Linked DNA regions of Homo sapiens. The protein of the gene in region 2 purifies or fractionates together with the protein of the main gene of each other region. This does not show direct contact. Each region holds a gene or a part of one and is shown on either strand. Other genes may lie near its edges.

Region 1 (3,500 bases), on a different chromosome or scaffold from region 2:
TGTGATTAACACAGCTGGTAGGAAAGAACCACAACTTGGTGGTCAAGCTGCTTAATGTTTATCAAGTTCAGCATAATGGAAAAAGCATCAAATTTTAATTCCTGTGCCCTCACTTAATAGCTATGTAACTTTAAAGACACCATTTAAAATCTGAGCTTCATAATTATAAATTATTATGCAAATTAGTATGTAAATCCCCCCACAACCAAGTTATGAGATCATGTGAAATGCAGCTCCAAGTGCCTGGCTGGCTATAAAATGCTCCAGAAAGGCTGGCCACTGAAGGACAGACACAAAGTAGCAAAATCATAGGCTTATGTATTCTTTCAAGTCCTTCCCAAGGATAAAGATTATTGTATAATTATCACTGATAACAGAAGCTAACATTTATTGAGGGCTTGCTGTGTGCTAAGATTTTACATGCATTAGCCTCACGTCAGCTTTAGGAGTTGGGGTTAATTATGGCACCTAACTTATAGAAGAGGAAACCAATTTAGAGACATTAAAATACTTGTTCAAGGTTACACGGCAGGGAAAAGGCAGAGTCAGGATCTGTATTCTGTAGTCTGAATCCAAAGCGAATCCAAAACTCTGAGGTGCTATGCTCTGCTACCTGCTGATGGTTCTGCTGGGGGATGCTCAACCACCAGATGTCTTACTTGGGAACTGCACTGGAGGTCGAGGGTCTGCATTCTCCTTCTGTCGTAAAATCACAACGTCCCCATCTTTCAAGCCATAAGAAGCCAATGATCTGTGGTTGTCTGTGAGAGGTCTTTCCGCATAGACGATCTACAACAAGAAAAGATATACAACAGTATAAAGCACTGAGAAGTAACACAGCGCAAGGCAGAAGGACCAGTTTTCCCCTGAATCAGATGTCACCCTCCTTTCAAACCCTCCAGTGGATTCCCACCACATCCAGAACAAAACCCACAGTCCTTCCCGTCACCTAGCAGGACCAAACAATGTGGTCCCTGGCTCTCCTGACTTCGCCTTTCACTATGACTGCTGTTCCTCAAACAACAGGGATCAACTTCCCCTTCAGGGCTGTTTCTCTTGTTTTCTCTACCTGAGGAATGTTCTTTTTCCACTCATTTTTTTCCTTTTACGTCTCTGATCAAACATTACTCTTTAGAGTTCTTCCCTACTATGTTATTTAAAATGTACTCTCAACTAACACAATATATATTTACTTATTGTCCTTCTGCCCCATTAAATGTAAACTACTTGAGGACAAAGACTTTGTTTCATTCACGAGATCATAAATGCTTAGAACAGGGCCTGTTATATAACTGATGCTCAAATATTTGTTGAACTAAAGAATGAATGAATTTATGGAAATGGATATAATTTTAGATTTAATTTTTAGCAGGGAGGAAAAGGGAATGATTTATTCTGGGTATGCTAACTAACTACAGTACTATTAAATAAAGTGTGCACTTTGAAATAATCTTGAACACTGGCAAAAGGGTCCCAAATATCATCCTTCCTGCACTGCAATCTTCCTTCTCTTCTACCACCCCCAAAGTTTTATCACTCTGGGCCGGGCACGCTGGCTCACGCCTGTAATTCCAGCACTTTGGGAGGCCAAGGCGGGTGGATCACGAGGTCAGGGGTTCGAGACCAGCCTGGCCAACATGGTGAAACTCCGTCTCTACTAAAAATACAAAAATTAGCCCAGTGTCGTGGCACGTGCCTGTAATCCCAGCTACTCCAGAGGCTGTGGCAGGAGAATTGCTTAAACCCGGGAGGCAAAGGTTGCAGGGCTGAGATCGCACCACTGCACCCTAGCCTGGGCAAGCAAGATTCCATCTTGGTGGGGTGGTGGGAGGGGGGAGACTGGAAAATAAAGTGAAACTAAGAAAATAACAACTAAATACAAGTGGAAAAAAGAATTAGGAATGTACTACTAATAAAAATATTTTATGATGTGTAATCAAACTGAAAAAAACCTGACAGCACAAATAGATGAAATAATGTGTTGCAGATAGAAAGAACAAAGGTACACTATAATTTTATCATGAAAAAACATAAAATCTGCCCTGCATTATTACATACTCCAGAAAGGCATTCAGAACAAACTCAGGCTTTGAAAGGTTTTCCTCCTAATGATTTTTCACCAGGCCACATGCGAACTGAGGAACATGAGTTCTATCCTTGCCAGTAACTCCCTGCGAGGGGCATGACACTCAGCAGGTCCAGACCTCACCCTTCCCATGTGTCAAGCAAGCAGGTGGGCTAGATCATCATTACAGCTGTCCCTTCCAGTTCTCTCTGCTAACATTATCATTCTATGTTTCCTTACAGCTTTCATAGTAAGGTTACCTGAAATAAAAACTGAAAACACAGCATTTAAACTGGAAAAAAAGTGATTATGCCATATCTGCTCTCAGAATTTATAGACATGAGGAACAGAACAGGAAAATGAGTTCCTACCAAAATCAAATTCTTCTGAATATGAGCAAATTTGTAGGCCCAATTATACAAGTTTTATGCATGACTTGAAAAAAAATACTATTAAGTCCTTAATGCTCAACTCGCTGAGTTAAAACACATTTCAGATCTGGTATGATGGCTCATGCCTATAATCCTAGCACTTGGGGAGGCTGAGGTGTGAGCATCACTTAACCCATTTAGGCCAGAGGTTGCAAATTTTCTTTTGTGAAAAAATCATACCTTGGCAATGACCTTGAGTAGTAGGATATAACTCCCACAAGCTTAGCGTTCCATTGGAAGGCTAAGCACAAATGGGTTAAGCCCTGGAGTTTGAGACCAGCCTGGGCAACATAGTGAGACCGCATATCTAAAAAAAAAAAATTTTAAATAGCCAGCCATGGTAGCATGTGACTGTAGTCTCAGCTACTTAGGAGTCTGAGGCAGGAGGATTGCTTGAGCCCAGGAGGTCCAGGCTGTAGTGAGCTGCGGTTGCACCACTGCACTCCAGCCTGGGGCAACAGAGTAAGACCCTGTCTCTTAAAAAACAAAAACAAACAAAAAAAGAACCACATTTCAACAGACTGCAACTGTCACTCCCATCATCCCATTCACACACCCTCATTTAAACACAAATTTCACAGTAAAAGTACATCACCATCAACACAGAATTTCAGCAAAACAACTGAGAGTCATATTATAACTTGTGAGACTGCTTGGAAAAAACACATAAACCAGAAGTGATGAGCGTCACAGGTTGAGGTGTGCAACAAGAAAAAAGAGGTATGTCAAGAGAAATGGCAGGTAGGCAGGCTCTTACAGCATAGCATCAACACTGTGAAGCCACTGTCAACAACCTACTCTTTAATTTTCCAGTTTCAGAAATTCAACTATCAGTATATTTAGAGATACATGAACAGTCTCCTGGGAGCAGAGGCACATTTTAACGGTATTTATTTATTTATTTATTTTGAGACGGAGTCTCGCTCTCGCCCAGGCTGGGGTGCAGTGGCGGGATCTCGGCTCACTGTAAGCTCCGCCTCCCAGGTTCTCCTGCTTCAGCCTCC
Region 2 (3,500 bases):
CTCATGAATTAATGTCCTTATGGGAGTGTGTTAGTTATCACAAAAGTGAGTCTGTTATAAAAGGGAGCTCTCTTCTCCCTCAGGCCTTTGGCCATGTTACTATGCAGCAAAAAGGCCTTCACCAGATAACAATGTCGTTTTCTTTGCCTTCCAAGCTCCTGGAATCATGAGCCAAATAAACTACCCCTGTTTATAAATTAGCCAATCTGTGGTATTCTATTATAGAAAACAAAACAGACTAGAATAAACACAGAGTGGCTAAATGAATTTTTTTAAACTAACAGTATGCTGCTTACAAGAGACTCACTTTTGATTTAAGGACAAACATAAACTTAAAGAATAGAAACCACAGTGCATGCAAACAACAACCAAAAATCAGGAGTGGTTGTTGGTTATATTAGACAAAACAGACTTCCATGCAAAAATCTGTCACAAGAGGAAAGGAGTTCACTACATGATGATAAAGAAGTTAATTTGTTAAGAGGATATAGAAACTAAAACTATGTATGCACCCAACACTGGAGCACCCAAATATATAAAGCAAACATTAACATACCTGTGGTGAGAAAACGAAATGCAATAACAGGGAACTTCAATGTCCTATTTACAACAAAGCATGGAATATTTAGAGAGAAAACTAATAAAAAAAAAGAGTTCACCTGTATAACACCATAAACTAAATAGACAATATTTTATCAAACAGTATGAGAATACACATTCTTCTCAAGAATACATGGAATATTCTCCAGGATAGATCATATGTTAAACCAAAAATAGAAAACAAGTCTTTTTAAATTTAGGATTAAAATTATATCAAGTTTTTTATCATAATGGTGTAAAACTAGAAAATCAACAGCAGGAGGAAAACTAGAAAGCTCACAAATGTGTGTGATACAGTGTGGATGTTTAGTCTCCCACCACAAAACTCATGTTGAAAAGTAATCCCCATTCTTGAAGGTGGAACCTAATATGGGGTGTCTGAATAATAGGGGCAGATCCCTCAAGAATTCTTTGGTGCTGTCCTTGATAGTGAGATGTTATGAGATCTGGTTGTTTAAAAGTGTGTAGCACCTCCCAACTTAGTCTGGTGCTCCTGCTCTTGCCATGTGACTGCCTGTTCTACCTTTACCAATTCCCCTGATTGCAAACTTACTGAGGCCCTCGCCAGAAGCCAAGCAGATGCTGGTGCCATGCTTCTGTACAGACTGCAGAACTGTAGACCAATTAAATCTCTTTTCTTTATAGAATAGACTAATACAGTGTTGACATTAAACAACATGCTTCTGAACAACCATGAAATCAAAAGGGAAATAAAAAATTGTCTTGATACAAATGAAATTGGAAACACAAGAAACCAAAACTTCTGAGATGTAACAAAAGCAGTTCTAAGACAGAAGTATAAAATGATAAAGTTCTACAATAAGGAAAACAAAGATCTCAAATAAGCAATCTAACTGTAATCCTCAAGGAGCTTGATCAAGAAGAACAAAATAATCCCAGTGTTGGCATAATTATGGAAATAATAAAAATTAGAGCAAAGAGAGAGAGAGACTAGAAAAATAAAAAATATCAAAAAACTGAGTCATTAAAAAAAAACAAAATGAACAAACTTTTCCTAGATTATCCAAGGGAAAAAAAAAGAGAGAGGACTCAAAAAGCTATTAATGAAAAAGCAGTCATTCCAGCTGATATCACAGAAAGAAAAAAAATAAGAAACTATTATGAACAATTACATAACAAAAAAAGATAACTTAGAAGAAATTGATTCTTAGAAAGAACACCACACTGTGAAGAAACAGAAATACCCAAAAGACTAATAATGAGAAAGAAGACAGAAATACTCAGAAATCTTCCAATTTAAAAAAAATCCCATGACCAAATGACTTCATGGGTAAACTGTATCAAGCATTTAAAAAAGCAATGTCAACACTTTTCAAACTCTTCCAAAAAACTGAAAGAAAAAAGCACTTTCAAACTCATTTTATGAGACCACCAACATCTCATACTGAAGCCAGATAAGGACACTACAAAAAAGTAACAAAACAATATTCCTTATAAAGATACAAGCAAAAATTCTCAACAAAATACTAGATACCAAATTCAAAAACACATTAAAAGGATCAGACATCATTATCAAGTAGGATTTATCCCTGAGATGCAAGAATGTTTTAACATACACAATTTAAATGATATACCACAATAACAAAAAGATGAAAATCATATAATCCTCTCAAAAAATTTATTAAAAGCCTATAACAGAAGTAAATACATTTTCATAATAAAAACTCCAAACAACATACATACAAAAGTATCCATCTCAACAGAGTAAACAGTGAAATGCTGAAAGTTTCCTCTAGTATCAGAAACAAGACAGAGGTGCCCAATCTCAACACTTCTATTCAACATAGTAGTGAGAAATCAAGCCAGAACAATTAGGTAAGAAAAAGAAACAAAAAGGCATTCAAATCAGGAATAAAGAAGTAAAATTCTCACTGTTTACAGATGAAGTGATTTGAAGATACAGAAAACCATAAAGACTATACCAAACAAACAAAAAATAGAGCTAATATATCCATTCAGTAAAGTTGAGGCCACAAAAATATACAAAAATTAGTAGCATTTCCATATACTAACAATAAACTGAGAAAAAAGTTACAAAAAAATCTGATTTATAATAGTATCAAAAATTTTTTTTAAATTTTATAACTTCATTTAACAAAAGAAGTGAAAGATCTGTCCAGTAAAATCTATAAAACACTGATGAAAGTAATTGAAAAAGACACAAATGGAAAAATATCCCTTCTTCATGGATTGGAAAAAATATTGCTAAAATGTCCATACTTCACAAAATGATTCACAGATCCAATGAAATCTGTATTGACATTTTAATGGCATTTTTCACAGAAATAGAAAAAATTATAAAACTTCAATGGAATCACAAATAACTCCAAATAGCCCATGCAATCTTGAAAAAGAAGAATAAAGCTAGAGGCATCACACTTCTTCATTTCAAACTATTACACAGCTATACTAATCAAGAGTATGGTACTGACGTAAAAACAGACACATAGACCAATGGAATAGAATACAAAAACCAGAAAGAAACCCATGTGCATACAGTCAACTATTACTTTGACAAGGGCACCAAGATACACAAAGGGGAAGTATAGTCTCTTCAACAAATAATGCTGAAAGAAAGTAGTCATCTGCAAAAGAATAAAATTTACTTATACTATGTACAAAAATTAACTCAAAAGAATTAACACTTAAATGCAAAACCAGAAACTGTATAACTTCTAGAACAAAGCATAAGGAAAAATCTCTTTGACACTGGCCTTGGCAATAATTTTTCTGGCTATCACATCAAAAAATCACAAGCAACAAAAAGCAAAAAATAAAAACAAGTAGCATTAAATGAAACAAAAAAGTGTATGCACAGCAAACACAGAACATGAAAAAGCGACCCAGGGACTGGGAGAAAATAGATCTGATAAGAGTTT

The links. The genes of interacting proteins can lie anywhere in the genome.
Region 1: the proteins of ZNF267 (region 2) and DDI2 purify together in Homo sapiens (co-immunoprecipitation; one large-scale study listed by IntAct). This does not show direct contact.

Annotation. Positions count from the first base shown.
Region 1 is NC_000001.11:15,623,958-15,627,457, reverse strand, and holds part of DDI2 (protein DDI1 homolog 2), read right to left. Parts: intron 790-3,500; coding exon 660-789; intron 1-659. UniProt on the Homo sapiens protein: Aspartic protease that mediates the cleavage of NFE2L1/NRF1 at 'Leu-104', thereby promoting release of NFE2L1/NRF1 from the endoplasmic reticulum membrane.
Region 2 is NC_000016.10:31,887,307-31,890,806, reverse strand, and holds part of ZNF267 (zinc finger protein 267), read right to left. Parts: intron 601-3,500; exon of another isoform or gene 557-600; intron 1-556. UniProt on the Homo sapiens protein: May be involved in transcriptional regulation.